2 linked regions of the Homo sapiens genome follow. The protein of the gene in region 1 purifies or fractionates together with the protein of each later gene. This does not show direct contact. Each region holds a gene or a part of one and is shown on either strand. Other genes may lie near its edges.

Region 1 (3,752 bases):
TTTCAGGTAGCAATAAGTGCTGCAAAGAAAGCAAAATAGGAAGCTGTGATAGAGAGTGAAGGAGGAGGTGGGGTGGTTAGTACAGGTCAGAGGGTCAGAGAAGGCCTGACCCATGTGATCCGGGAGCTAGTTCTGCAGAAGCCAGGGGAAGACCATTTCTGGTGGTCTTACCGCAAGGATGAAGGCCGTAGGTAGTAATAATAAGCTTGGTGGATTTCAGAAGCCAAAGAAAGTCAGTGTGGTTATGGCATGGGAGTAAGTGGGTAGTGACATTAGAAGTGAAGAAGAGGCTGAGGCCATGGTGCAGGGCCACAATGAAGAGTTTGGTTTTTAAGCATAATGGAAGCTGTAGGGGGATTGTAGGCCAGGGAGTGAACAGATGTGATTTATATTTTTAACTATTACTTTTGCTGCTCTGTAGAGATTGGGTTGTTTTAGGTTAAGATGGAAGCAGAAGACCATTTGGAAACTACTGTGATAATCTAGGGGATATATGATGCTGTTATACAAGCCACATTTGTAAAGCACTTTCTGGTTTACCATGTACATCCTCACATGTCTTCTTCTTAGACCCTCACAACAGTCCTGTTAGGCAGGGCTGTTATTTTTAACTCCATTCGTTAGGCAGAGAAAGAAATAGGCTGTGAGATGAAATGACAGCTAGTAGTGGGAGAGGAAGTTCTCAGATTGCTCTCCTGGGTCCTGACCCAATTGCTCTGTTCATTGACATCCCCACTGCCATTCCCCAGATCTCAGGGGAACACCATTTAGTTCCACAGTATGTGGGAAATCTAGAAATAAGTGAGCTCTGTGTCTGTCCTCAGCGTGCAGCTGAATCAAGGAGAAGGATATATACAAGGAGTATCTTGAAGTTTAGTGTTGCTCGTCTGATGAACCCTGATTGACTTCATGGTGTTGTTTTTTTGGGGTTTTTGTTTTGTTTTGTTTGTTTGTTTTTGTTTTTTTGAGACAGTCTCGCCCTGTTGCCCAGGCTAGAGTGCAGTGGGCGATCTCAGCTTACTGCAACCTCTGCCTCCCGGGCTCAGCCGATTCTCATGCCTCAGCTTCCTGAGTAGCTGGGATTACAGGAGGTGCCACCACACCCGGCTAATTTTTGTATTTTTGGTAGAGATGGGTTTTCACCATGTTGGCCAGGCTGGTCTCGAACTCCGAACCTCAGGTGATCCACCCACCTCGGCCTCCCAAAGTGCTGGGATTACAGGCGTGAACCACCATGCCCGGCCAGTGTTATTGTTTATTCTTATCTTTTTACATAAGGCTTTACCAGGAAGATGGTGATTGAGTATATATCAGTGTCCACAGTAAGCAGTTCTTTATCCTAATGTATTTCTTCCACATTTTCTCATATGTCAGCTATGTATAGTACTGGTTCTCAACCTGTGGTACCCAAACCACAGCATGACAATTACTAAGGTTTTTAATAGAATGCCTATAATTACATGTATATTTATTAAAAATGACTGGCTTTCATTTTGCAACTCAAGTTGTTTACCAAACTTGATTAGTAGAATCTAAGGTATGAGCAGTTAAAAATAACCAAGTTAGTCTACAACATATGCATTTAATGAAATACTGTCAAACTGCTTTTAGCCAGGCATGGTGGCACCTGCCTGTAGTCCCAGCTACGTGGGAGGCTGAAATGGGAGGATGGCTTGGGCCCAGGAGTTACAGGCTGCAATGAGCTGTGATATTAAGTCTCTGGACATTATGGGGGGTGCCAGCAATGCCTCAAAGCCACCCTAGGAAAGGATAAAGATATGAGGAGGACTAATGAATGCCACAGGGCATGGGGAGGCTTAACAAAACACCTGGTGGGTAACACCTGAAGACTCCAGGGCCAGTCTGCCTGGGTTTAAATCTTATTGCTGTAGCTGGGTGACCACGATCAAGGAGTTTAACCTGTCGGTGCTTCAGTTTCCTCATCTCGAAAGCAGGGATGGGCCGGGCGCGGTGGATCATGCCTGTAATCCCAGCACTTTGGGAGGCCGAGGCGGGTGGATCACGAGGTCAGGAGATTGAGACCATCCTGGCTAACACAGTGAAACCCCGTCTCTACTAAAAAAAAAAAACACAAATTTAGCCGGGCGTGGTGGCGGGTGCCTGTAGTCCCAGCTAGGCGTGAGGCTGAGGCAGGAGAATGGTGTGAACCCGGGAGGTGGAGCTTGCAGTGAGCCGAGATCGCGCCACTGCACTCCAGCATGGGCGACAGAGCGAGACTCCATCTCAAAAAAAAAGAAAAAAAAAAAGCAGGGATGATAATAGCTGCTATGAGGATGAAATGAATTAACGAATATGAAATACAGCAGTCCCTGGCACAGAGCAAGGGCCACAGAAGTGTTTTTGTTGTTGTTGCATCTCCAGGCCTGGCCTCCTCTGAGTCCTAGACTGGAGCATCCAGCCATCTTCTCAGCATCTCCACTCTGACGTCTACTAGGCATCTTACACTTGCCTAAGCAGATCTCTTGCTTTTTTCTTTTCCCTATTTTCTACCCAACTCTGCCTCTACTCAAATCTGTCCCTCTCCTCGTTTCCCATGTCTCAGAAAATGGCACCTCTACCCAACCAATTGCTACCAGAAATCATCACTGACCCCTCACTCCCTAAGTCTTATCAGCTCTGACAGCAGAACTAGACTGTACCTGTCCATTCTACCTCCACTGCTGAGCTAGCCCCCATCACACCTGTACTGCCTGATTAGTCCACCTGATCTCCTTGCTACTATTTTTACTTTCTTATAATTCCTTCCCTACCCAGCAACTAGAATGGTCAGGTTGTTCCCCTGCTTAAAACCTACTGTGACAGATATTGCATGATTTCACTTATATGTGGAATCTCCAAGTTTGAACTCATAGAAGCAGAGAGTAGAATGGTGGTTGCTATGCACTGAGGAAAAAGGGAAATGGTCAAAGGGTACAAAGTTTCAATTAGACAGGAGGAATAAGGTCTGGTGATCCACACAGCAAGGTGAGTACAGTTAACAATCATGTATTATGTATTTCAAAATTGCTAGAGTGGGTTTTTAAAAATTAATTTTGTTATTGATACACATTACATGTGCATATTTTGGGAGCACATGTGATGTGTTACATTCATATAATCACATCAGAGAAATGCAAATCACATTTTTATTTCTCTTAATGATTAATGATATGGAGTATCTTTTCATGTGCTTACTGCCCATTTGTATATCTTCTTTGGAGAAATATCTATTCAAGTCCTTTGCCCATTTTTTTTTGTTTGTTTTGAGACAGAGTCTTTCTGTCTCAAATCACACATTCATAAATGCACGATCATGTGTGCACAATCTAATTGTGATATGTTACCTTAAATATTTGTCTTTTCTTTACACTAGAAACATTCAAATTCTAGCTATTTTTTTTGGCGGGGGGGGGGGGGGCATTAAAAATTTTTTTTTAATTTTTTTTTTTAGTAGAAACAAGGTCTCACTATATTACCCAGGCTGGTCTCAAACTCCTGAGCTCACGCAGTCCTCCTGCCTCGGCTTCTTCCCAAAGTGCTGGGATTACAGGAGTGAGCCACTGCACAAGGCCTGTTTTTTTTCTTTTTCTCTTCTTTCTGTTTTCTTAAGACAGAGTCTTACTCTATTGCCCAGGCTGGAGTACAGTGGCGGGATCTTGGCTCACTGCAGCCTCAATCTCCTAGGCTCAAGTTATCCTCCTACCTCAGCCTTCTGAGTAGCTGGGACTACAGGCATGTGCCATCATGCCTGG
Region 2 (3,752 bases), on another chromosome or scaffold:
TTAACGTGCCCAGCACGTGGCGACACTCAGTAGGTGTTATTCCTGCTCTGCCAACAGCAACCATAGTGATAAGAGCTGTAGGGATTTTGTTCTTTTGCTTAGAATCCAAGGTTCAAGGACCTTGGTTATGTAGCTCCCTGTCATGAACATCATCTGAGCCTTTCCTGCCTACTGATCATCCACCCTGCCTTGAATGCTTCTAGTGACAGAGAGCTCACTACCAGGACTACTCCCTCCTTTCATTTAGTAATCTGCCTCCTTCTTTTCTTGTCCCTGTCCTGTGTGTTAAGTCCTGGAGAAAAATCTCATCTATCCCTTTCATTTGATTCTGCTCTTTGAGGGCAGGGGTTTTTGTTTCTTTGTTTGTTTTTTTAAGTGTTGGTTTTCCAAAGCCCTTGCTCCCCTCCTCAATTGTAAACTTCAAAGCCCTACTTGGGATTGAAGGTCCTTAGGCTGGAAACAGAAGAGTCCTCCCCAACCTGTTCCCTGGCCTGGATGTGCTGTGCTGTGCCAGTATCCCCTGGAAGGTGCCAGGCATGTCTCCCCGGCTGCCAGGGGACACATCTCTATCCTTCTCCAACCCCTGCCTTCATGGCCCATGGAACAGGAGTGCCATCGCCCTGTGTGCACCTACTTCCATCAGTATTTCACCAGAGATCTGCAGGATCAAAGTGAATTCTCCAGGGATTGTGAAATGATGCGATTGTGGTCATGTTTAAAAGGGGGCAACTGTCTTCTAGAGAGTCCTGATGAAATGCTTCCAGAGGAAATGAGCTGATGGCTGGAATTTGCTTTAAAATCATTCAAGGTGGAGCAGGTGGGGAAGGGTATGGATGTGTAAGAGTTTGAAATTGTCCATCATAAAATGTGTAAAAAGCATGCTGGCCTATGTCAGCAGTCACAGCCTGGAGGCTGTGAACAGAGTGCCAGTCACTGATGCTCTTGCCTGGCACCTACAGTTGCTGGAAACCCAGAAGTTTCACGTTGAAAACAACAGGACAGTGGAATCTCTGGCCTGTCTTGAACACGTGGCAGATCTGCTAACACTGATCTTGGTTGGCTGCCGTCAGCTTAGGTTGAGTGGCGGCCTCTTCCCTTAGTTTGCCTTAGTCCCCACTATTCCCTATTGTCTTACCTCGGTCTATTTTGCTTATCAGTGGCACTCACGTGGCACTCATAGGCATTTGAGTCTATGTGTCCCTGTCCCACATCCTCTGTAAGGTGCAGAGAAGTCCATGAGCAAGATGGAGCACTTCTAGTGGGTCCAAGTCAGGGACACTATTCAGCAATCTACAGTGCACAGGGCAGTTCCCCAACAGAGAATTACCTGGTCCTGAATGTCGGATCTGGCCCCTTCCTTCCCCACTGTATAATGTGAAAACCTCTATGCTTTGGTTCCCTTGTCTGCAAAACAGGGATAATCCCAGAACTGAGTTGTCCATGTAAAGTGCTTAGAACAGGGAGTGCTTGGCTTGGGGAGTGTCACCTGCAGTCATTCATTATGCCCAGACAGGATGTTTCTTTATAGAAACGTGGAGGCCAGTTAGAACGACTCACCGCTTCTCACCACTGCCCATGTTTTGGTGTGTGTTTCAGGTCCACTTCATCAACCCGGAAACGGTGCCCAAGCCCTGCTGTGCGCCCACGCAGCTCAATGCCATCTCCGTCCTCTACTTCGATGACAGCTCCAACGTCATCCTGAAGAAATACAGAAACATGGTGGTCCGGGCCTGTGGCTGCCACTAGCTCCTCCGAGAATTCAGACCCTTTGGGGCCAAGTTTTTCTGGATCCTCCATTGCTCGCCTTGGCCAGGAACCAGCAGACCAACTGCCTTTTGTGAGACCTTCCCCTCCCTATCCCCAACTTTAAAGGTGTGAGAGTATTAGGAAACATGAGCAGCATATGGCTTTTGATCAGTTTTTCAGTGGCAGCATCCAATGAACAAGATCCTACAAGCTGTGCAGGCAAAACCTAGCAGGAAAAAAAAACAACGCATAAAGAAAAATGGCCGGGCCAGGTCATTGGCTGGGAAGTCTCAGCCATGCACGGACTCGTTTCCAGAGGTAATTATGAGCGCCTACCAGCCAGGCCACCCAGCCGTGGGAGGAAGGGGGCGTGGCAAGGGGTGGGCACATTGGTGTCTGTGCGAAAGGAAAATTGACCCGGAAGTTCCTGTAATAAATGTCACAATAAAACGAATGAATGAAAATGGTTAGGACGTTACAGATATATTTTCCTAAACAATTTATCCCCATTTCTCGGTTTATCCTGATGCGTAAACAGAAGCTGTGTCAAGTGGAGGGCGGGGAGGTCCCTCTCCATTCCCTACAGTTTTCATCCTGAGGCTTGCAGAGGCCCAGTGTTTACCGAGGTTTGCCCAAATCCAAGATCTAGTGGGAGGGGAAAGAGCAAATGTCTGCTCCGAGGAGGGCGGTGTGTTGATCTTTGGAGGAAAAATATGTTCTGTTGTTCAGCTGGATTTGCCGTGGCAGAAATGAAACTAGGTGTGTGAAATACCCGCAGACATTTGGGATTGGCTTTTCACCTCGCCCCAGTGGTAGTAAATCCATGTGAAATTGCAGAGGGGACAAGGACAGCAAGTAGGATGGAACTTGCAACTCAACCCTGTTGTTAAGAAGCACCAATGGGCCGGGCACAGTAGCTCCCACCTGTAATCCCAGCACTTTGGGAGGCTGAGGTGGGCGGATCATTTGAGGTCAGGAGTTCGAGACCAGCCTGGCCAACATGGTGAAACCCCATCTCTACTAAAAATACAAAAATTAGCCGGGCATGGTGGCACGCACCTGTAATCCCAGCTACTCTGGAGGCTGAGGCAGGAGAATTGCTTGAACCCCAGAGGTGGAGGTTGCAGTGAGCCAAGATCGTCCCACTGCACTCCAGCTTGGGTGACAAAACAAGACTCCATCTCAAAAGAAAAAAAAAACAGCACCAATGAAGCCTAGTTCTCCACGGGAGTGGGGTGAGCAGGAGCACTGCACATCGCCCCAGTGGACCCTCTGGTCTTTGTCTGCAGTGGCATTCCAAGGCTGGGCCCTGGCAAGGGCACCCGTGGCTGTCTCTTCATTTGCAGACCCTGATCAGAAGTCTCTGCAAACAAATTTGCTCCTTGAATTAAGGGGGAGATGGCATAATAGGAGGTCTGATGGGTGCAGGATGTGCTGGACTTACATTGCAAATAGAAGCCTTGTTGAGGGTGACATCCTAACCAAGTGTCCCGATTTGGAGGTGGCATTTCTGACGTGGCTCTTGGTGTAAGCCTGCCTTGCCTTGGCTGGTGAGTCCCATAAATAGTATGCACTCAGCCTCCGGCCACAAACACAAGGCCTAGGGGAGGGCTAGACTGTCTGCAAACGTTTTCTGCATCTGTAAAGAAAACAAGGTGATCGAAAACTGTGGCCATGTGGAACCCGGTCTTGTGGGGGACTGTTTCTCCATCTTGACTCAGACAGTTCCTGGAAACACCGGGGCTCTGTTTTTATTTTCTTTGATGTTTTTCTTCTTTAGTAGCTTGGGCTGCAGCCTCCACTCTCTAGTCACTGGGGAGGAGTATTTTTTGTTATGTTTGGTTTCATTTGCTGGCAGAGCTGGGGCTTTTTGTGTGATCCCTCTTGGTGTGAGTTTTCTGACCCAACCAGCCTCTGGTTAGCATCATTTGTACATTTAAACCTGTAAATAGTTGTTACAAAGCAAAGAGATTATTTATTTCCATCCAAAGCTCTTTTGAACACCC

The links. Proteins that work in one complex are often made in the same cells at the same time.
Region 2: the proteins of NAAA (region 1) and BMP7 purify together in Homo sapiens (affinity purification with mass spectrometry; 3 studies listed by BioGRID and IntAct, with this or other methods). This does not show direct contact.

The regions. Positions count from the first base shown.
Region 1 is NC_000004.12:75,927,300-75,931,051, reverse strand, and holds part of NAAA (N-acylethanolamine-hydrolyzing acid amidase isoform 1 precursor), read left to right. Parts: intron 1-3,752.
Region 2 is NC_000020.11:57,168,953-57,172,704, reverse strand, and holds part of BMP7 (bone morphogenetic protein 7 preproprotein), read left to right. Parts: intron 1-1,596; coding exon 1,597-1,746; 3' UTR 1,747-3,752. UniProt on the Homo sapiens protein: Growth factor of the TGF-beta superfamily that plays important role in various biological processes, including embryogenesis, hematopoiesis, neurogenesis and skeletal morphogenesis.